Homo sapiens: one gene and its partners. The protein of the gene in region 2 interacts with the protein of the main gene of each other region in a pairwise test. Each region holds a gene or a part of one and is shown on either strand. Other genes may lie near its edges.

What was found.
Region 1: the proteins of SHISA6 (region 2) and FBLIM1 interact in binary tests that used the Homo sapiens proteins (3 or more experiments, as listed by UniProt).
Region 3: the proteins of SHISA6 (region 2) and TRPV2 interact in a protein complementation assay, tested with the Homo sapiens proteins (one study listed by IntAct).

Annotation. Positions count from the first base shown.
Region 1 is NC_000001.11:15,754,116-15,762,103, reverse strand, and holds the start of FBLIM1 (filamin-binding LIM protein 1), read right to left. Parts: upstream 3,310-7,988; 5' UTR 3,256-3,309; intron 1-3,255. UniProt on the Homo sapiens protein: Serves as an anchoring site for cell-ECM adhesion proteins and filamin-containing actin filaments. Is implicated in cell shape modulation (spreading) and motility.
Region 2 is NC_000017.11:11,244,213-11,251,871, forward strand, and holds part of SHISA6 (protein shisa-6 isoform 1 precursor), read left to right. Parts: intron 1-7,659. UniProt on the Homo sapiens protein: Involved in maintenance of high-frequency synaptic transmission at hippocampal CA3-CA1 synapses.
Region 3 is NC_000017.11:16,410,803-16,418,570, forward strand, and holds the start of TRPV2 (transient receptor potential cation channel subfamily V member 2), read left to right. Parts: upstream 1-4,768; 5' UTR 4,769-5,031; intron 5,032-6,759; 5' UTR 6,760-6,866; coding exon 6,867-7,066; intron 7,067-7,768. UniProt on the Homo sapiens protein: Calcium-permeable, non-selective cation channel with an outward rectification. Seems to be regulated, at least in part, by IGF1, PDGF and neuropeptide head activator. May transduce physical stimuli in mast cells.

The DNA of each region.
Region 1 (7,988 bases), on a different chromosome or scaffold from region 2:
AAAAAAAAAAAGAAAAGCATAAATCAGAGAGCATGGTGGCACCCTGATACCCTGATGTCAGGAAAAGGACATTATTTCCCATCTCTCAGGTAGTTCCTGCTGACAGTAGTCCCTGTGGCCAAGGCTGAGGTGGGGCCATGGGTGGGAAAGCTGGGAGTCCAGTGAGCACATCAGTCCTCAGCAGGCACCCAATGCCTGTGCCCAGGGCTAAAAATGTCCCCTTTTCTATCTCGCTCTTCAGGCTTCCCTCCTTATCTCAAAGTGCACTGGCCACTTTGGGTTCACAGCGACTGATGGATGATAATAAAAACAATAACACGTGCTCCTAAATTCCCTTAAGTTGTTTGGCTAAAATACATAGCTCAGTCTGACAATAAAATATCTATTCTGAGGAAGAAACCAATATATTAGGAAAGAGCTTCAAAACTTATTTTAAAGTACTTGTCTTTTGCTTCTGGGTTTGGAAATGATGTCTGGAAGTACGTATGCTTAGGCTGGCTGTCACGGGCTTTAGTTTTACACTTTGTTATAAGTTTAAGAATCTATTTTTGTCAACAATGTTCAGAGTACATGTGAGATTTAAAGAAATACCAAACGACTTGCTGATAAGGCACTTGTTTCGTGCCAGGCCCTGTGCCAGGTACTATATGTGCCTCAAAACCCACCAGCCTCTCAATCTAGCTGCAAGAAATGCCCATCCTGCCCCCACTTTGCAGATGGACCCTGTGAGGTTCCAAGAGGTTAAGTGACTTTCCCAGGCCATCCATGGCACTCGGAATTCTAATGGAACATCATCCAAAAGTGTGTCCCCAGACACGCTTTTCCTTCCTTGGGTGGCACAAAGTCGCCCAAGTTCCCAGGCCTGTTCTCACTCTACAATGGCCCAATCCAGACCAGAAATCTTGTGGTCGGCATGTTCCGGGCTGGTCCCCAGGGGCTGCTGTGGGGCTTCGGGATGGCCCTCTGCCTCCTCCCACCCAGCCCTGACCCTTCCTACACTCCTCCGGGAAGTCGGATCTGCCTGGCTTCTCGGAAAATGTCCAGCACTGAGGCCAGATGTTCACAGCTGGGCAGCCCCTATACCTCCCAAGCAGTGACTGCAGGGACCTCAGGCCCCAGGGGGTCTAAGCTGGGGAGTTTCAAAGCCCTGTCAATCCCATCGGGAGAGGGAGCCCCGGCTTCCCTCCCGTCCCACTGCCACCGATTCAGCTGGGAGCAGGCTGTGTGTAAGTTCCCTGGGGCCATCTCCCAGTCAGCTGTGCCCAGGGGACCCTCCGCCCCCACTCTTCCTCCCCCAGAGAGCGAATCACAGATCCAGTTAGATAAGTGGAGAAAAGTGGGAACAAAGGGAAGGAAAGTCATTTCCTGTCCAAAGGAAGGAAGGAGGCAGGGATCCAGCCAGCCACCCAGACCAGCTAGAGGCTGCAGCCTTGGGGCAGAGAATGTGCAGCTCAGGGGGGGTCACCCCCACAGTCCTCCTTCCTACTCCTTGTTCCCTACAAAGAAAAAAAAAAACAAAAAAACCTCTGGGGCCACCTCTAAGCTCTGTTCTTTTTTTTTTTTTTTTTTTTTCTGAGACAGAATCTTGCTCTGTGGCCGAGGCTGGAGTGCAGTGGCGCAATCTCAGCTCACTGAAACCTCCACCTCCCAGGTTCAAGCGATTGTCCTGCCTCAGCCTCCTGAGTAGCTGGGACCACAGGCACACGCCACCACCCCTGGCTAATTTTTGTATTTTTGGTAGAGACAGGGTTTCACCATGTTGACCAGGCTGGTCTCAAACTCCTGACCTCAAGTGATCCGCCCTCCTCGGCCTCCCAGAGTGCTGGGATTACAGGCTTGAGCCACTACACCCGGCTTAAGCTTTGTTATTTATTTATTTATTTTGAGACAGAGTCTCATTCTGTGGCCCAGGCTGCGCAGTGGTGCGATCTCGGCTCACTGCAACCTCCGCCTCCTGGGTTCAAGCGATTCTCGTGCCTCAGCCGCCGAATAGCTGGGATTACAGGCGCGCGCCACCACACCCGGCTAATTTTTGTATTTTTAGTAGAGACGGGGTTTCACCACGTTGGCCAGGCTGGTCTCCAACTCCTGACTTCAGGTAATCCGCCCGCCTCGGCCTCCCAAAGTGCTGGGATTACAGGCGTGAGCCACCGCTCCCGGCCAGCTTTGTTCTTTAATGACCGGATAAAGCAGTCTACCTTTGGGTACGGAATTAAATTTAGGCAGAAGTGGCGGGGTGTGCCCCAACCCCTCCCACCCTGCAACTTAGGGGAGGGGTTCCCTCAACCTCTTTCCCACCCCAGGGAAACAGAGGAGGTAGAGAGCTGGGTTCACACGCGGCCCCACTTCTTTCCTGCGGGGTGACCCCGAATAGGTCACAGAAACTCTCTGGCCTCGTTTTTTCATAAAGTGAGAATGAGTGTGTCCCTAGGGCGGCTGAGAGGATATATAAGGAAAGAAGACTCAGGGTCTAGGCCCTTGGAAGGTGCAAAGAGAAGGACAGCTGGTTAGGCAGCAGCTGAGAGGGAGAAGCAGCCCGGGGGCTGGGCTCGGCTGGGGGTGCCTCCAGGACCCGGACAGAACCTACAGCGTCATTAAGAGCAGGAATCTGGGCGCGGCCCCAGCCTCTCCCCGGGGTCCTCAGGCTTGGGTGGGAGGTGAGGGGTAGGGGCCGACGCCAAGATCATCCCAGGGCACACACCTGGGTATCGCCCATCTCCACACCTTCTCAGCCCCCGACGGGCGCGTGAGGCCCAGAGAGGAGCAGCCCCGGGACCCGTCCCTCCCCTTGCCTGACCCTGGCTAGGAAAAGGGGCCTGGAGCGCCCCCGGGCTCCGGAAACGCGGGACCCTCCGCAGGCAGCCGAGCAGGGCGGCCGCCGGGGTCACCGCTGGGCGCCGCCGGAGCTTTAATTCGATCCATGTGCGGGACTCCGGCCTTTTGTGCGGGAGCTTCCGCCCTGCGCGCCGGGTCCCCGGCTCCCGCTCCCGGGCTGGGACTCGGCCCTCCGCCGGCCTCACTGAGCCCTCGCCCCGGACCTGCCGACTCCCCGACTCCGGGGAGAGAGACCAAGAGACTGGGACGCAAAGGGCGTGAGGACCGCACCCCCCACCCGCAGGCCCCTCCAGGGGCGCCGCGCCGGGGGTCCCGGCTGGCGACCGAGCAGGCTCCGGCCGAGCACTGCCGGCGCTGTCACCTGTGTGCACCGGGGACAGGGACGGAGGGACGCGACCCCCACCCACCCGGCCCGCTTACCTGGGCCGCCCGCGCCCCGGCGGCTCCGATCCGACGCCCGAGCCAGCGGAGCCCGGAGCCGCTGGGCCTCCCGTCCCCTCCGCCCGTCCGCCCTCCCCGCCCCCTCGGCTCCCTCCGCCCCGCCGCCCCGCGCCGCTTTACCATAAAAGGTGAGGCTCGGGGGGAGGGGGCGCGGGATTCCCGCCCCGCGGAAGCGGCCCCTACCTGCCCCCCAACCTGCCCGGCCGCGCCCCGCGCCGCCCCTTCCCCCTCCCTTTGTTCCCTGGACGACGCCTCCCCTCCCCCTTGGCACAGGCCAGGGGGTGGGAATGGGGGGGAATGGGGATGGGGGCGATGGGGGAATGGGAGGGATGGGGAGTGGGGGTAGGAGAATGGGGAGTCGGGGTGGGTTTCCTTCCCTCCCCGCTGCCCATCCCCTCGCGTTCTTCATGGACCCCGAGTGGTCCCTGCCGTCCCCCTTCCCTCGCTCTCCTGGGTTGGCAACCCCACCTACCCTGTCCGGCGGAGGTGAGCGCTTACTTTGGCTCTGGGATCCGCCAGGGTCTTGCGTCAAACCGACCAGGGTTCTGCGGCCGTTTACTAAGCGTGAGACCCGGAGCAGTCACGCCACCTCCTGAGCCTCAGTGTCTTCATCTGTAAAGTGGAGGTAGCCACTGCCTACCTCTCCAGGTTGGCCTGAGGATAAAAGGTGACAGTTACAGCCAGGACTGTGATTAATAGTGGTTAATATATGCTGGGTTGGGGGCTTTTTCCGGGAGTGTTCCTGAGGGTGGGGGTCTCGGAGACCCCCAGTGGAGCAGGTCACCTTGTTCTGCTCTCCTGAGCGGTAAGCCCTCTGCAGGTGGGTCCCGGTGTCCCGGGGGACAGGCCGCTCCAGGAGCTCTGGAAGGCAGGGCCCGGCTGGCCCTGTGGCTGAACCCCTCCCTCCACATCCAGTGACCCTCCCCCTCCCAGCTGGAGCAATTAGGACGGGAGCGGGAGGGGAGGCAGAGCCTGGACTCTGGGGCCCGGGATGGGGCCGGGATGGACTGCCTGGGTCCCTGGAGGCCTCAGGGACATTGTGGGGAAAGGAATCTGGGTCTGATTCAGAGGCAGACAGATTGTTCTTTTGATTAAAGCCACAGTGGCTGAGGCTTGAGGAGCGCTGGACCCAGCGCCATCTGCGGGGTGGCCAGACAGGATCTGGCCCGTCCTGCAACCCCTCAGCTACAGTCACCCCTCCAGGGTGGCTCTGGGGCTGTTTCTGAGGGAGGCTGGTTTATGAGGGTCAGAGGAGGCTGCCTCCGCCCTCACCCACTGATCATCGCCCCTCCCATCCCTCTTGTCGCCCCTTTTCCCATTTGATCCTCTCAGCCAAGCTGCAGTAACAGCAGCAGTCCCAGGAGCTGCCATTGATAGGGGCTTTCTAGGTGCTGGTACCCATCCTCATCCCCATCCTAATCCCACAAGAGCCATGAGCACCAGGGCTGATGATTCCTGTTCACGGTCAAGGACACTGAGGCCCCGAGAGGCTCAAGGCCACACTAGGGGCAAATGGCAGAGCCAAATTCAAACCAGAGCCGCTGTGTCCCTGGGCACACAGCTCTGCTAGTCTCAAGAACAGGTACCAGTGCCATCCTTTACAGAATCGGAAGCTGGGGCTTGGAGGTGCTGAGAGTTCTGTGCAGCAGGGCGAGGCTGGGACTCAAGGCTGTCTGAGTCCCTGCTCGGCTCATTCCTGGCTTGGCAGTGATATCCTGCCCCTGCCCCCCAAAACTCCAGCTTTGCAGCACCCTTTGGAGGAGACTTCCCCATACCCTCTGAACGACAGAGACGGGAAGGACTCAAAGGAGGAAGGTGCGATCTGGGGGTTTTCAGGCGCTTTTGGCTGTAGAACCCCTTTGCAAATGCTTAGTGACCCAGAAGTTTATTTAAGAGATAAAAGTGGAGCTGCCTGCCCTCACCTCCATGACAGCCCCTGAACCACCTGTTGCACCCCCAGGTGGGATAGTGAGGCAACGAAGAGTTGATTTGGGGCCTTGTTCAAGGTCACACTGACTTAGTCTAGGACCCAGGCTTCCCACATTTGCTCTGGGACAGTCCAAGGGGAATGAGGGGTTCAACTGCCTCTGCTTACCTGCCTCCAGCACCCCAGGCCACCTGTTCCACCGCCACCACTGCTCCCGGATGGAGGGATTCGTCCTGGCCCGCAGCAGCTCGGGTGTCGATGTCACCGATCGGCAGGTGCCAAACTTCCTGCAACGGAAACCCAGGAAGTGCGCTGGATGAGAACACACGCCCTTTGTCTGCCAGCTCAGAGGCTCTGCTGCCCTCCGCCCTCCCTGCCAGGCTCACAACGGCTTTCTTCTCCCTTAGATGGCTCCAGCAGGCAAGGGGCTCAATCTTCTATTAGGATGGTGGCAGCTGAGACCCTGAGTGGCAGGGAAGGGGTGGAAGAGAGGTTTGAGGGCAAGTCTGCTTGCCGGGGCGGGGGTGGCACCTCCACAGTGGAGAGCTTTGACTGAGCAGACACTGACCGGGCACCTACTGTGTGCAATGCATGAGTCAAGGAGCCGACGGGATCAAATCAGACATGATCAGTCCTTGTCCCCACAGTCCTTACAGGGAGATTGGGTAGAGCAAACCATAAAGCAAATTAACATAACAATAACCAATAGTAAAAGGTGCTATGAAGGAATGGACAAGGGGTCTGAGACAAAAGGGGGTGGGGTGGGTGTGGGGTGTGGGGTGTGGGGGGAAATCCTCTCTGAGGAGGTGAGGGTTAAGCTGAGATGGGGAGGAGCCAGTGTGAGAATAGGGACGAATATTCCCAGGGAAAGGGGGCAGAAGGGAAAACATGGGCTTTAAAGGTCAGAGGTCAGCTTGGCAGACAGCCTCAGAAGCCCCTTGGGCCTCCCAGCTCCTTCCTCCATCCTCCATCTTCCACCCTACCTGCTTGGAGTCAGGTCAGTCCAATGCTTATTTCCTGGGCGCTGCTGTGTGTGGGGCCCTGTGCTAGGCAGGGCGGGGAGAGGAGCAGCATAGAGAAAAGGGAGCTCCCCCATGGTGGCCGGGTCAGATGGGGACACAGATACAGCTGTGAGTAACATCAGTATCTGGGAGTGATTCCAGCTCTGCCACTTGCCAGCCTTGGGCAAATCACTTCTCTCTGGGCCTCAGTTTCCTCTTGCAACCGAGGGGTTGCCAACCCAGGTTTGTCCCTTGTGGCTTCATAGCAAGAATCTGGTGGGGTAAATGTGGGTAAAAATACCTGATGCTCAGTAGGTGTTCAGAGATGAGTTCCTTTGCTCTCCCTACCACATGAAGGATAGAAGTTTTAGTAAGAGGGACAAAGTTCTGAAGGGAAGGGAAGGACGTGACTTTGTCCTGCAAGAGAATCCAAGGAACATCCATGGCTCCTGATAGCCAGCACTACTTTCCCTGATTCTGATAACAGCACTCAGTTTCTGTTTGGGGAACCTCTCTTCCACTCTCAGTGCCTGGTGTATACATGACCCATGTCCAGCCAATCATAGTGGCTGTTAGTTCTAAGATCAGCTCTCTGGGCTTGTTGGCTGGCAGAATACAAGCTTGACACCACTTTTGCCCCCCACTTGGACCACCACAGAGGACAGCAGAGCAAAGAGATAGGAAAGAAAGATAACTGATTTCATCAGCTGCTGGATCCAGCCATACCTGCAATCCTACTACCAGACCTCCAGAGTCAATGCATTTTTTTCCCTTACTTTTTATTTTTTATTCTTTTGAGACAGTCTTGCTCTGTCGCCCAGACTGGAGTACAACTATGGGCTCCCTTACTTTTTCTTTTTTCTTTTCTTTCTTTCTTTCTTTTTTTTTTTTTTTTTTTTTTTTGTTTTTTGAGACAGAGTTTTGCTCTGTCACCCAGGCTGGAGTACAGTGGCACGATCTCGGCTCACTGCAACCTCTGCCTCCCAGGTTCACGCCATTCTCCTGCCTCAGCCTCCCCAGCAGCTGGGACTACAGGCGCACGCCACCATGCCCGGCTAATTTTTTGTATTTTTTTTTTAGTAGAGACGGGGTTTCACTGTGTTAGCCAGGATGGTCTTGATCTCCTGACCTCGTGATCTGCCTGCCTTGGCCTCCCAAAGTGCTGGGATTACAGGCATGAGCCACCGTGCCCGGTCCTTACTTTTTCTTAAACCAGTTAAAATTGTATTTCTGCAGTTATTTGTTGCGCTTTTTTTCCTTGTTCTAAATAAATAGTCAGTCATGAGGCTGGGTGCAGTGGCTCACACCTATAATCACAGCACTTTGGGAGGCCGAGGCGGGCGGATCATTTGAGTTCAGGAATTTGAGACCAGCCTGGCCAACATGGCAAAACCCTGTCTCTACTAAAAATACAAAAATTAGCCGGGCGTGGTGGCAGGTGCCTGTAATCCCGGGTACTCAGCAGGCTAAGGCAGGAGAATTGCTTGAACCTGGGAGGCAGAGGTTGCAGTGAGCTGAGATCGCACCACTGCACTCCAGCCTGGGTGACAAGAGCAAAACTCTGTCTCAAAAAAAAAAAAAAAATAGCTCTGCGTGGTGGCGGGCGCCTGTAATCCCAGCTACTCGGGAGGCTGAGGCAAGAGAATTGCTTGAACCCTGGAGGCAGAGGTTGCAGTGAGCCAAGATCGTGCCACTACACTCCAGCCTAGACAACAGAGCAAGACTCCGCCAAAAAAGAAAAAAGGAAAAAAAGCCAAGTGGGAATCGACCAGGCCACAGCTAGA
Region 2 (7,659 bases):
CAAGTTCACCACCTGATTTTATTCAGTTCACAGCCTCTCTTCCAGCAGCTGCAGTCTTGCCTGATCAGTGCTTTGGAAACCATCATATCCGTGCCTGTTGGGTAGGGGACAATGCCTGTCTGTGTGTGGTAGGGGGACAGGGCATGGGGGATCCATCTACGACACTCCATGAATGACCTTGGGCAGGTCAGGGAAACTTATTTTTCAGTTCTGGGTAACTGAAGCACAATGTCCCAACTCAGCTTCTTGCTTCCGGGGCACGTCAGGGTGAGTGTGCAAGTTGATCTCAGACTCCTGGGGGTGAGTGTGACTACACCACTCTTCTCACTTTGCTCACACCTCAGAGACCACCGTTTGCCATTCTGGGGAGTATTTTTGTGTAGACTGTCTTGTTGGGCAATCAAGGTAGGGAAAAGGAGGGAGTGATAGAGACAGAGAAATATTCACACCGTAATGAGTTTTCCTTAGGGAAAGTGGGGAGGAGAAAGAATGTACACTCTCGAGAGGTCAAGAGAGGAAGCGGATGTGCATGCAGTTACATATTCCTTGAAATAGCTCAGCAAAGATGTTTCCTTTCTGAACAAGAAAGACAAACCGGTTTCAGTGTGTGCTTCCCCCTGAAGATGATAGGTGGGCAGACAGGGGCTGAGTCTGAGGGAGTTTCAGTGAGAACAGCCTCATTGGAGAGGGACATTTATGGGAGTGTGAGCAGGGGTGAAGGGAACGGATGGGCCATCTGCATCTGCCTTAGTGCTCCCAGGCTGGACAGCCCTCCGCCTGCCCATGCACACACATTCCTTAGGGTAGGACTTCCTTTCATCTCTCTACTCCTTCAGGGAGGAAGATATTTCATCATTTCCAGAAGTGATTAGACCTTGCTATCGTGTTTCTGAGTGAGAAATCAGTGTCTGTGGGGGAAACCGTCAGCTCTCTTGTGATTCTAATAGATGAGTACCAAGTCCGACTCAGCTAGCTGGACTCCGTGGAGGAGGAAGAGATGGGCACAGGATTGAAAGGCAGAGCTGGGTGCTGGATGTGGCCAGAGAGCCCCAGGGCAGCCGTGCCTGCCTTTCCCAACCGGAAGCCCAATTCCTACCAGGATCTCCACTTCACTTTTCCCTTCTTCCAAACTGCCCGGGCTAAGGCTCAAGCTGCAGCCATCCACAGATTTTGCTATTTCCTGACTGACTTCCGCACAGCTCCCCTGAGGGGCTTTTTGTTCTGGGAGGGCCGCCAAGGGCATGGGCTGCACCCAGGAAACCGCCTGGGAGCCTGGGTCCTTTTTGACATTCATTTTTGTGCTAGCTGTCTCACATCCAAACCTGTTCCTTCCTCCTCACCCTGAGTTGATTCATTAGTGTCTTGGAGATGAGAATCATTCTGAGGGAGGAACTGTGTGGCTTTTTTTAATGGCTAATTAACAGATGGGTCAGGAAGCTATTAGGATGCTGGAGACGCAGTTGGTGAAATCAGAGCTGCCCTGGGTCCTTCCACTGCCTGCACAGGAGCAGAGGGGATCAAAGAATGTGGGCAGGGTGGGGGGGGTGGATATCTAGGTGGGTGGGAAGAAAAATCCAGGTGGATATCAACAGGAAAAAGTATTAGGAGGTGACCCCTTCATCTTGGGTTGGTTCTCTTGCTTATTTCTAGAAGAAGTCAAGGGAATACTTTGTTCTACTCTTTCTCCCTCCAGAAATTAATTAGAAACTCAAAGAGCTCTGTTATTTCCTCACAGGCCACATAACTGCAGTGGCAGGGCCCCTTCGCTGGCTGATTTAGTGAGTTCTCTTCCTAGGCTCCTGGGCAACAAATTGTCAAGTCACTGCGTTTTTTGAAGCACTGTGAGCTCACTATAATGAATTGATCTAAATAGAGAGTCGACTTATTTTTCTACTTCAAATATAGAAGGAAAGAAACAAAAAAGCATCTTGCCTTGGACTGAAAGTTTTAGCCTTGCCTTTATTTCTTTTTTCTTTGAGTTAAAAAAAAAATGCTTCGCCGGGTGCGGTGGCTCACGCCTGTAATCCCAGCACTTTGGGAGGCCAGAGTGGGTGGATCATTAGGTCAGGAGATTGAGACCATCCTGGCTAACACGGTGAAATCCCGTCTCTACGAAAAACACAAAAAGTTAGCCGGGTGTGGTGGCATGCGCCTGTAGTCCCAGCTACTCGGGAGGCTGAGGCAGGAGAATCCCTTGAACCTGGGAAGCAGAGGTTGTAGTGAGCCAAGATCGCACCACTGCACTCCAACCTGGGGGCCAGAGCGAGACTCAGTCTCAAAAAATAAAAAGAAAAAATAAATGCTTGTAGGGAAAGAGGAAAATTGTGGAAGAACTGGAGAAGTCTTATGGAGGAAGGGCTAGGGGAAGGATGCTGGGAAGGCAGAAAGAAGCAAAAATAGCGAAAGGAGGAAAGCAATCCAGTGAGAGGTTGATTATTCCCACTGAAGGGACAAAGTGACGTTGCCCTGCCTTCATGTGCCACAGGCTTGGTTTGTCCTGACTCTTGCAGACACACGCAGACATTCACTTAACAAATGAGCCCTGCTCACCTTCCCTGGGCAAGATGTGTTTCATACTACACCATATAAGCTTATAAGACACATGTTGCCTTTGATATATGAGGTTAGCAGGGTTCCTTCTTGCTTTAGCAGGGCAACCATGCAAATACTTTTCAAATTCCCTACACTGTGCAATTCTCCTTGGTCACATTGCTCACTGTCTTCATGTCCCTTCCTGCCCCTCCCCAAGCTCAGAAGGCCTTCACACCCATCCCTTTCTCCCCTCTTACCCTACCCGAGGTGGGGAGCACATTCATTTCTGGGAATCGACTGCTAAGGTACCAAGTTTACCCACTGTTCTAGGCTGCCAAGACACAGCTAGAGAAAAAAGCCTAATTCATTGTATTCAACTGGTTTTAATGAGAGATCGGATTGACCGTGCAGTGGATTCAAATCAATTGTGCAGGAAACAGTGGTTAAGACAGCTGAGAAAGTGATCTGATTGAAAGAGGCTAATTCACTAGCTCCAGACGGACAGTCCTACGGATCCGGAATAAAAGGGAACCACAACAAAAGAAGCTTCATGCTTCCAGTTCCATCGCCTGATTTTCCAGGGGCTGGCAGATTGTATTTAGGTCTTCCCTTTCTAGTTCAATTTCTATAGTCTGCAAGAATTCCTACCACATGCTGGAACTGCCACCGTGCTCCTGGCTATGGGAGGTCACCACCCTCCTTCCCTGCTGCCCTCTCCCCATTCAAACACCTGTACCATCCATTTTTGAAATTATGGTGAATTTTGTCTTACAATTTTGCTCATAGCCCTTGATGATATATCACCTCTGGAACCACAAAATGATGGTTTCAATTTACAAGCATGTAAGATGTCTCAGATTGGTTGGTGGTGGTGGGAGGGGTTGTGCTTGGGTGGAATATATGAGGATTTAGACTAAGTACGTTTTGTAGTTTCTGTTGTGATTTTTCCCCTCTTTTCTTTACCTTGGGAAACTCCACCCCATTATTTCTTCCTGAGTTACGTTTATGACCTCACCTCTTTGGCGTCTTTCTTTTTTTTTTTTTTTTTGAGATGGAGTCTTGCTTGGTGGCCCAAGCTGGAGTGCAGTGGCACAATGTCTGCTCACTGCAACTTCCGCCTCCCTGGTTTGAGCTATTCTCCTGCCTCAGCCTCCCAAGTAGCTAGGACTACAGGCGCCCGCCACCACACCTGGCTAATTTTTTGTATTTTTAGTAGAGACAGCGTTTCACCATGTTAGCCAGAATGGTCTCGATCTCCTGACCTCATGCTCTGCCCACCTCTGCCTCCCAAAGTGCTGGGATTACAGGTGTGAGACACGGAGCCTGGCCTCTAGTGTCTTTCTTTGCAGATATTGTAGAGAGATAAGAGGCCTGGGTACAAGGGTTACCAGTGAATCCTCAGAGGGTCTCAGTCCCTTGAACTCAACCCTTGAGCAAGCTTAATTTTAAAACAATTCAGGATACATTGCTAACTCTATTTTTTTTAATCTCTCGAAGTGAAACCAGAACTTCTGAAAAAGCAGGGTAGTACATTCTATTCTTTTGTCATCTATTACAGAATTATAACGTTTTCATTGCAGGCAATTCATTTAATCTCGTTACCTAGTTTTACAAGTGAGGCAACTGAAATTCAGAGAGGCTAGGTCACAGTGCCAAGGAGCCCAGCTAGTGGGTGGGTGAGCTTGGAGGTTAAGCCAGGGCGCCTGTGTTCTAGCGCTCAGACTCATCTCATTCAATGAAAATATATTCTGCTTCTTTACTCTTTGCACGTTCCTTGGTTAGTCATCACCAAATAACTTTGGGATCCTTAGAGATGTGAGTTACAGCCTTCTCCTTTCTCTTTCTTTCCTACGTTTCTGTACCCCTCCTGGTTCACTGTTTCCACTGAATGTCTCCACTAAAATGATTTCTGTCGATCTTCCCCGCTCCTTTTGCAGTTTTTTCACGTTCCTTTCTTAAGGGCAATAACCTAATCTAAGCATAATCCTTTTATAAGGTCTGAGTAATGCGGACTATTGAAGAAGGAAAATAACAGCACAACCAAAGAGTTGTGGACTGGGGCAAAAAGTCACCGAATGAAACTGTGGGCAGAAATCTGTCATTAAAAATTCAGGGCCAGGCACAGTGGCTCACGCCTGTAATCCCAGCACTTTGGGAGGCCGAGGCGGGCAGATCACGAGGTCAGGAGATCGAGACCATCCCGGCTAACACGGTGAAACCTCGTCTCTACTAAAAATACAAAAAATTAGCCGGGCTTGGTGGCGGCGCCTGTAGTCCCAGCTACTTGGGAGACTGAGGCAGGAGAATGGCGTGAACCTGGGAGGTGGAGCTTGCAGTGAGCCGAGATCGCGCCACTGCACTCCAGCCTGGGCAACAGAGCGAGACTCCGTCTCAAAAAAAAAAAAAAAAAAAAAATTCAGACTGTGAATGCTTTCTCTCTCTCTCCCAGAGATGAGTGGAAATGCTGAATGCTGAGACCTACCGGATCAATGCAGTTCAGCTCTGTGAGAGGCCAGAGACCTCCCGCCATCCAGTGGCCGTGTGTGTGTGTGTGCGCGTGCGTGTGTGTGGACGTGTGTGTGCGTGTGTATATGTGTGTGTGATTTCAGGGTTATCTTCTGGGTTGGCCCCCTGCATAGAATATAGCTCTGCAAGCCACGGAAGCTCATTCATAGACGCCAGTTTTGCCCTTTCTCAGCTCTGGGCCCAGATACTGCAGGCTAATCAAGCTGGAAATCTGGGCTTAATCATTATGTGAAAATAACCTCTGTGGCATGCAGTTTGGGGGTTTTCCCTGTAATGTGCTTGATACTTCCTTTGAAAGAACCTGGTTGTACATACCTTAATGTGTCACCCTTCCAAGCAGTCACCTTGGGAGGCCGCATGCTGATTTTTCTGCAGAAAATGTTTCCACGGTCCCTCTCTTGAAAGTACATTGAGAGCCCATGGCATGTCATTTTGACTTTATATAAGGGTAACATATTTTAATTTTCCTAGGGTTGATTTGATTCTTGTAAGCAATGGTAAGTCATGGGGCTGAGTCTGATGAATGAGATAGGTGATCAGAAATCAAGAGTGCCTCCAGTAATGAGACTTGCTCTCCTAGGAGCCGTGTCAGCTGTCTCTGAAGGCAGGAGCCCAGAAGAGGCATTTCAGAAAGGAGTGAATGGCAGCTCTGCACAGGAGTGCCTGGCAATCCACGATGATCATTTTGAAGAGGACACTCCTCATGAGGAACGACAATTATTGGCCTTAAGAAAATCAGTTTTATGCTTTATCCGTGTGTCAGGCAGGTGGTGGAGGTCCTAAGAGAGAGGGAGAAAAAGGAGTTGAGTCTGCAGCAAGCATTTCACATGGAACTGCTCAGAAAGGGTGAAAAAGTGCACGTCCCATATTTCTGCATGAGATAGTAGACAGTTAGCTTAATTTAGCTTCCTAGTTTGATACTGAGGGTAAAAGGACCCAGTTTTACGGGATGTATGCAGTGAGGCTCGGGGTCAGAGCCAGAGTGTTCACTGTGCCTTCCCTTCTTTCTATCCCAGGGCTGTCGCCTCTGTACTTCTGCATTCAGACGGGGTCACCAGCTGGGCCAGACTGCCTTAGATGATGTAGAAATATTTGCAAGCCCAGGAAGATAAGGCTGCCAGTGAGCACTGCTGATCAATTCCTAATGTGCATTTATCACCACTCGCTCCACCCCCAAATGTCCATTCAGTGGATGAATTGATCACCGAAATGGAGCGAGGGTGGGGCAGGCTGAGTGTAAAGGCAGGTGACAAGGGTTACCAGACTCAGTGTCTGCAGGCAGGGAAGCCATGGCTGTGCTACCTGGGTAGAATGGCATTCCTTCATCTCAGTCAGGATTTAGGGGTTGGTAAAGGGCTGGGCATTTGTACTGCCCCCATGCATAGGCCGGGGCAGAGCCTCTGGTCCTGATGACCCTCTAAAGGCCATTGTTGGGCATTCTGGAGGAGTCAGTCTTGCTGTGAGCCTGGGGAGTCCCTCTTAACTCTGCTCACGTGTCAGGACAGTGGGAGCTCTGTGTCCCAGGAGCTTACACAACCCCATCACTCATGCAAGCCCACAAGCCAGAGTTGGAGAGAACTGGAGATCTCGGTGAGATGAAGACTCAAGGAAGTGGAGAGGATGGTAGAGAGATACTCATAAGAGTGCCGGGTCTCGAGGGCTTACTCTGTACCAGCATCCAGCTTGCACCTAACCTGCATTATCTCGCTGCATCCTCCCATCATCCCGTCTGAGTGTAGGGGCCCATGTTGTAGATGAGGAAACCGATTCAGAGAGGCTTAGTAACTTGCCCAAGGTCACACAGCTAGTACATTGCTGGTGCCCTTCTCTCTCTCAAGTCCAGTAGAACAGTTGGGTCTCACCTTCCTGAATGTAATGGAGTCAGTGATACTCAGATTACTTAAGAAAGCAAAGACCTACCTTCCCATGCCCTGGGACTGGTTATCATAGTGAAAGACTGGGAAGATAAGTGACCTACCTATGAGGGCTCTGTGGAACCAGAACGGCGGCCCCCATTTAGATTGCATGCAGGCAGCAAGATCCTCAGGGCAGTGAAAGAGCTCTCTTTCAGGAATATATGATATTGGCTGAGGATAGCAAAGGCAATGCAAAGAAAATATTAAACAAAACAAAACACCCTGATTTTAATTGAGAAAAAAAAAAAACTTGACAATATTGAAAGAACCCCTGGGCAATTCTGCATGAGTCAGTGGAGAGCAGTGACGGGAGCTTGGGTGAGGGGCACAGGAGAGAAAAGAGGCGATTTGGGAGGCGGTATGGACCTAGGGATATTTCTAGTTTTAATTACTGAGATGTAGAGCTCACAAACAGCTCCATTTATCACAACTCTCCCACCCTGCCCCATGTCTAACATCTAGCATCGTGCATGCAAGACACAGCACTTTAGCCAGCTTGCTTCTGCTGTTCCCTGTTCTGGTTTTATTCCTTCCCTGTTTGTACCCTGGTGGCTGTGCTTCGTAATGACTCACGCTTTCCCTGTGATTCTCTGTTTCCGGTTCTCTCAAGTCCCCTGTCCTGAGGGGCACGTGGAAAGGAAGGAATCCTGGGACACTCTTAATAGCCTGTGTTTTACTCTCCAGC
Region 3 (7,768 bases), 5.2 Mb from region 2:
TCACGCAGATTACTTCTTGACCTTTCAGCTAAAATCAAGTGTAGTATCTGTTCTTATCAGTTTGACGTGTCCCTTATCTGAGGATGTAATAAAAATAAAAATAAATAAATGGAATCATGCAGTGTGTGATTTTTGTGACTGACTTCTTTCATTTAACCTAATTTTTCAAGTTTCTTCCATGCTATAGTGTACATCAGTACTTAATTTCTCTTTTTGTGGCCAAATAATATTCCATTAAATGGATATGCCACATTTTATGTATCCATTCGTCATCAGTTAATCATCATTTGGGGTGTTTCTATTTGGTTATTATGAATAATGCTGCTGTAAACATTCATGTACAAGTGTGTATGGACATATGTTTCCATTTCTTTGAGTACATACCTAGGAGTGGAATTGCTGGGTCGTATGGTAACTATGTTTATTTTATTTTTTTTTTTTTGAGACAGAGTCTCACTCTGTTGCCCAGGCTGGAGTGCAGCGGTGGCACTATCTCGGCTCACTGCAAGCTCCGCCTCCCAGGTTTATGCTATTCTCCCGCCTCAGCCTCCCAAGTAGCTGGGACTACAGGCGCCCGCCACCACGCCCGGCTAATTTTTTTTTGTATTTTTAGTAGAAACAGGGTTTCACCATGTTAGCCAGGATGGTCTCGATCTCCTGACCTCGTGATCCACCCGCCTTGGCCTCCCAAAATGTTGGGATTACAGGTGTGAGCCACCGCGCCTGGCCCTTTTTTTTTTTTTTTTTTTTGAGACAGCCTTGCTCTGTTGTCCAGGCTGCAGTGCAATGGCAGGATCTCAGCTCACTGCAACCTCCACCATCCAGGTTCAAGCAATTCTCCTGCCTCAGCCTCCCCAGTAGCTGGGATTATAGGCATGTGCCACCATGCCCTGCTAATTTTTTTTTTTTTTTTTTTTTTTGAGACAGACTCTTGCTCTGTCGCCCAGGCTGGAGTGCAATGGGGCGATCTCAGCTCACTGCAACCTCTGCCTCCCGGGTTCAAGTGATTCTCCTTCCTCAGCCTCTGGAGTAACTGGGATTACAGGCGTCCACCACCATGCCTGGCTAATTTTTGCATTTTTAGTAGAAACAAGGTTTTGCCATGTTGGCCAGGCTGCTCTCGAACTCCTGACCTCAGGTGATGCGCCTGCCTCGGCTGCCCAAAGTGCTGGGATTACAGGCCTGAGCCACCGCACCCGGCCTAATTTTTTCATTTTTGATAGAGGAGGGTTTTCGCCATGTTGGCCAGGCTGGTCTCAAATGCCTGACCTCAGATGATCCACTCACCTCGGCCTCCCAACATGCTGGGATTACAGGAGTGAACCACCGCGCCCAGCTCTCTATGTTTAATCTTTTGAGGAGCAGCCGGACTGTTTTCCAAAGTAGTTGCACCATTTTACAATCTCCCAGGAGTGTAGGACAGGTCCAATTTCTCCACACCCTTGCCAACACTTTGTTGTTACATGTCTTTTTATAATAGCTATGTTAGTAGTGTGAAGTGGGACCACATTGTGCTTTTGATTTGCCTTTCCCTGATGGCTACAATCCAAGGCCTTTTTGTAACCAGAATTTGCAATTAAGGTTATCTGTCTACCCAATTGTCATTTTCACCGGATGTGGTGATGGCTCTGGAGGACTTCAGGTTGTCCACTTTTCACTTTTTTCTCAACAGCACAGCAGTGCCCTCTGCACTATGATTATAAGCCATCCTGTCATTCAAAGCCTTCTTGAGCACCACTTGGATGCCAGGCACTGTGCTGGTTGCTGGGGATACAGCAACAAAGCAAGATCTCACCCCTTGGAAAGTATGGTGGTAAGCCTGTGGCCCTGGACTTGAATCCTTGCTTTCTCACCTCCCAGCCTTGTGGCCTTGGCCTTACCCATGCTCAGTTTTCTTGTCTGTGAAATAAGGTTGCTCTGGGAGTTACATGTTGAGCGCTTAGCACAGTGTCTGGTGCATAGTGAGTGCTCCGTAAGTATTTTTTATTGTTAAAGGTGAAGGCGGGGACAGTGGCTCATGCCTGTAATCTCAGCACTTTGGGAGGCGGAGGTGGCCGGATCACTTGAGGTCAGGAGTTCGAGACCAGCCTGGCCAACATGGTGAAACCCTGTCTCTACTAAAAATACAAAAGTTAGCCGGGTGTCGTGGCGCGTGCCTGTAATCCTAGCTACTGGGGAGGCTGAGGCAGGAGAATCACTTGAATCTGGGAGGTGGAGGTTGCAGTGAGCCAAGATCATGCCACTGCGCTCCAGCCTGGGCAACAGAATGAGACTCCGTCTCAAAAAAAAAAAAAAAGTGAAGCCAGACAATATAATAAATATTACAGTAACGGATAATGAGATGTGGGGGAAGTACAGAGTGTCATGGGAGCACATAGTGGCGATCCCCAGCCCAGTCCAGGGTCTAGGAAAGGCTATCTAAAGGAAGTGATGCTTAAATTGAGAGATGATGGATGAGCAGGAGTTGGCTAGATCAGATCAAGAGCAGTGTGTGTGTGTGTGTGTGTGTGTGTGTGTGTTCCTGGCAGGTGGAACAGAAGAGGCATGGCATACTGGGGAGACTGAAATGTGTTCAGAATGTCTAGAGCAGTGCTGTCTAATAGAACTCTATGTTTATGAAAAATGTCTCAGGCTGGCACGGTGGCTCACGCCTGTAATCCCAGCACTTTGGGAGGCTGAGGTGGGCGGAGCTCCTGAGGTCGGGAGTTTGAGACCAGCCTGACCAACATAGAGAAACCCCGTCTCTACTAAAAATACAAAATTAGCCAGACATGGTGGTGCATGCCTGTAATCACAGCTACTCAGGAGGCTGAGGCAGGAGAATCACTTGAACCTAGGAGGCGGAGGTTGCGGCGAGCTGAGATCGTGCCATTACACTCCAGCCTGGGCAACAAGAATGAAACTCCGTCTCAGAAAAAAAAAAAAAAAAGAAAGAAAAAAAGAAAAATTTGTCATCTGTGTGCTATCCGATATGGTAGCCACTAGCCACATGTGCCAACTGAGCATTTAAAATGTGGCTAATGGGACAGCAGAACTGAATGTTTACTGTTATTTTATTATGTATTTATTTTTGAGACAGAGTTTCCCTCTTGTTGTCCAGGCTGGAGTGCAATGGCACAATCTTGGCTCACTGCAAGCTCTGCCTCCCAGGTTTAAGCGATTCTCCTGCCTCAGCCTCCCAAGTAGCTGGGATTACAGGCACGTGCCACTACGCCTGGCTATTTTTTTTTATTTTTAGGAGAAATGGGGTTTTGCCATATTGGCCAGGCTGGTCTCGAATTCCTCACCTCAAGTGATCCACCTACCTTGGCTTCCCAAAGTGCTGGGATTACAGGTATGAGCCACCGCGCCTGGACTAATTTTGTATTTTTAGTAGAGATGGGGTTTCACTATGTTGGTCAGGCAGGTCTGGAACTCCTGACCTCAGGTGATCCACCCACCTCAGCTTCCCAAAGTGCTGGGATTACAAGCGTGAGGCCTATTATAATTGATTTAAATCTAAACAGTCATTGTGGCTAGTGACTATCTTATTGGATGGCGCAGGCCTAGAGTGTAATGTGCATGACAGGGTTGCCATGAGTGACGGATAGCGATGGAGAAGGGCATCTGGACTTTGAGGGCTCATGGTATGGAGTTTGCATTTTATTCCAAGCACCATGGGTGAGGTTTTGTGATTAAGTCAAGGCGTTAGGTGACCTGGTTTTCTTTTTTTTTCTTTTTTGACACAGAGTCTCGCTCTGTTGTCCAGGCTGGTGTGCAGTGGCACAATCTCAGCTCACTGCAACTTCCGCCTCCCAGGTTCAAGCGATTCTCCTGCGTCAGCCTCCCAAGTAGCTGAGATTACAGGTGCCCACCACCATATCCAGCTAATATTTGTATTTTTAGTAGAGATGGGGTTTTGCCATGTTAGCCAGGCTGGTCTTGAACTCCTGACCTCAAGTGATCCATGCACCTCGGCCTCCCAAAGTGCTGGGATTACAGGTGTGAGCCACTGCGCCCGGCCCTGGTTCCCATTTTTAAAAGGTCACTTCAGTTGCTATAAGGAGAAATGGATTATGAGTGTGGGGCAAGAATGAAGCAGGGAGACCAGTTTGGAGGTGGCTGCAGTTGCCCAGGGGAGCAGTGATAGTGGCTTGGACCACTCAGAAAGACAAATTTTGGAGGAAGAGCTGATGCCAGGTTTTGGGAGTGAGGGAGAGAGATTCCTAGGGCTACTTCGGTGGTGGTTGGGTCCCCAAGCTCCAAGACTGAGTCCAGACCAGGGCCCCGTTGGTGGTGAGGTCTGATTTTAGCAGTGCGTGCCCACCTCCTTGTCTCCACCTGCTGGCTGGTGCTTGGAGCACCTTTAGGGGAACTTTAGCCATCAGAGTCCTGGGGTCAGGAGGCTGGGAGAAGGTCCTGGGAGGTGGGAAAGTCCCCCAACTGCTGGGTGGATGGGTGGGTGGGACTGTGTTCCCAGGGGCATCTGCTGGGCTGAGCCTCTCCCTGGGGGCTGTCCACATCAGCTTTCTCCCCTGCCATGGGTCAACTCAGGCCCATTTATGGGCCACACGGCTGCTTGGAAGGCATGTGGTGGAGAAGGGGAGGAGATAGCTGTCAGTGGACTTGGGGAAGAATCCCCCATCCATGGCAGCTTCCATGGGTGGCAAGTCCCCAGCATCCAAGGGCTGCCTCTGAGTGTCACCCACCCCCACCTGAGACCTTAGTGGCTAGAAGGGGGAGGGGTGGGGGTGGAGCCTGATTCGCAGCAGGGTGTGTCCAGATGGTCAGTCTCTGGTGGCTAGCCTGTCCTGACAGGGGAGAGTTAAGCTCCCGTTCTCCACCGTGCCGGCTGGCCAGGTGGGCTGAGGGTGACCGAGAGACCAGAACCTGCTTGCTGGAGCTTAGTGCTCAGAGCTGGGGAGGGAGGTTCCGCCGCTCCTCTGCTGTCAGCGCCGGCAGCCCCTCCCGGCTTCACTTCCTCCCGCAGCCCCTGCTACTGAGAAGCTCCGGGATCCCAGCAGCCGCCACGCCCTGGCCTCAGCCTGCGGGGTAAGTCGGTGGGCAATGCTGGGGACGTTGGAGGGGGCCGGGTCTCCAAGCCTGACAGTGAATGATGGGGTGGGGAAGGCCTAGTGGGCTCCTGGCTTCTACAGCCTGGAGCCAGGGTCTGTGTGGGGCTCCAGCACCCTCTCCCTGGACCTCCACACCCCTTCCTCTGCTGCCAGGGTGGGTGAGGGTCCCAGGAGGTGGGGTGGGGGCTGGACAGACAACTGTTGCTGCTGGGGCTTGGGAGTCTAGGGCTGGAGGAATGGGCCAGGGTTTGGTTGGGGACACAGATGGGCTAAACGGTATGAAACGGAAAGAGCACCCTTCTGCCCCAGTGTGTGTAGAAAGGGTGGTGGGTCACATCTGCAAACTGAGGCAGCCAGGCAGCTCCCCACCTCCCATGTTTCCATGGGAAAATACCCCACCCGGGTCCCCAGGGCCTGGTCCCAGCCTACCCTCTCCACTTCCCTCTGCTGGTGCCGCTCCTCTCTGCTCTCTGCCCCCTGCCCCCTGCCCCCTTCTCCACCCTTCTGTCTCCTTACCACTCTTTGACTCCTTCTTCTTTCTGATCCTGCTCACTGGGCCCATGAGGGTTCCCCAACCCTGACCGAGGCCCCACCCTTGCCAAGTGATGGAGGCTGTGGTTTCAGTTTTCCTGTGAGGGTGAGATTGTGCTGTTTGCTGAGCTTCCTAGGCCAGCCTAGGGCCTGAGGCAGCGTGGTGGAGAGAGCCTGGGCCACAGGCTAGGGGCCTCCCTCCCTTCGTGAAGCCCCCAGAGGCCCTGAGGCACACAAAGGTAGTATTCGATGCCTTCAGAGCTGAATCAGACTGAAAATATAGACAGACCCTGAAAGGCTTTGAAAACGGAAGAGGAACGTCATGGTAGACGCATGGTGTCAGATCCGGCTCTGCCAACAACTGGCGACCTTGGGAAAGCCACTCCCCCTTTCTAAGCCTTAGTAGTCTTGGCAGCAAAATGAAGGGTTTGATAGTCTAGTGGTTTTCCCAGTTATTTCTTCTTAGAGCTCCCCTTCTTTGGCGAGGGGTTGAGTGACTGGCCCCATCCCAGTCATCGCACTTTTATCTGTTGGAATATTGGCTGCCAGGCAAGACGTTGTGTAAAGAAAGGGTTGTGCTGTTAATGTAAATGGTAACAGGGGTTGTGACCCCTCAGATTCCAGGAAGTCCCAGAGGAAAAGTCGGGGACAGTCATGGCTCTTCCTGGGGGACAACATCAAAAGGGTGGCCCTATTGGTTCCCTGTTCCTCACCCCACAGGCCTCCCTCCCTCTCCTCACCCCTGCTGCTCATCCCTCCTGGCCCACTTCCCCTGCATTGGGGCTGGGCTCCCACACAGTGGGTGGACCTACTTGCACTTGGCATTTTTGCCATTAGAAGTAATGAGAAGTAATGGCAAAAACCGCAATTTTTTTTTTTTTTTTTTTTGAGACAGAGTCTTGCTCTGTTGCCCAGGCTGGAGTGCAGTGGTGCCATCTTAGCTTCCGGGTTTAAGCAATTCTCCTGCCTCACCCTCCCTAGTAGCTGGGATTACAGGCACAAGCCACCATGCCCAGCTAATTTTTGTATTTTTTTTAGTGGAGATGGGGTTTCACCATGTTGGTCAGGCTGGTCTCTAACAGCTGACCAGCCAGCCTCAGCCTCCCAAAGTGCTGGGATTACACCCAGCCACCACGCCCAGCCTTTTGCACTAACCTAATACCTCCTTTTGCAGGCTCCAGTCAGGCCAACACCGACGCGCAGCTGGGAGGAAGACAGGACCCTTGACATCTCCATCTGCACAGAGGTCCTGGCTGGACCGAGCAGCCTCCTCCTCCTAGGATGACCTCACCCTCCAGCTCTCCAGTTTTCAGGTTGGAGACATTAGATGGAGGCCAAGAAGATGGCTCTGAGGCGGACAGAGGAAAGCTGGATTTTGGGAGCGGGCTGCCTCCCATGGAGTCACAGTTCCAGGGCGAGGACCGGAAATTCGCCCCTCAGATAAGAGTCAACCTCAACTACCGAAAGGGAACAGGTGCCAGGTGAGACAGCAAGTGGGGGCAGGGCAAAGGGGGCCCCCTGCCCAGCTCCAGCAGAGCACCCGGAGTGAGACTCATTGACTAGTCCAGCACCAGTGCCCCTTCCCACAGCCTGTGGAGTCCTCAGTCTGGCCCTGGTGGCTCCTGGGCCCGACAGGCTGCCTCTGCTCTGCCATCTGGCATTGCTCTTTCCAGAGGCTTCCCCATTCTTGGCCTTCTGCCTTCTGAGGTCATGTTCTTCATGAGATACATTCTTGAGCTCTAAGTCCTCAACTGACCCTCAAATCCCCCTGTTCATGCCAACTCCCACCCCTGTCATGGTCCCTGTTGGGGAAGGCAGCAGGATCCACACTCCATCCAGTGAGAATCAAGGACATCTGGAAATGTCCCAGGCTCTCCTCAGTTCTGCAAGACTGAGCCTGTCACTCAGGGGACGTGAACTGTGGGATTGGGGATGACAGGCTTCTGCTTGGAGTCATCTGCACTTTGATTTTCCTGTGGTCTTTCCACCAATTCAGACTGTGTGAGCACCACATTCCTGAGAGTCCCACTTCCAGTCCTGCTGCATTTGGCACCCCCTACTTCCCTGCCCGGGGGCGGGGCCTGCCCAGTGAGGCTGGAGAATCCTCATGGGCCAGGCTAGACTCTGCCACAGAAGCCCCTTCTTCCCTTCTCATGCTTGAGGTACAGCCACCAGCTTTGGCC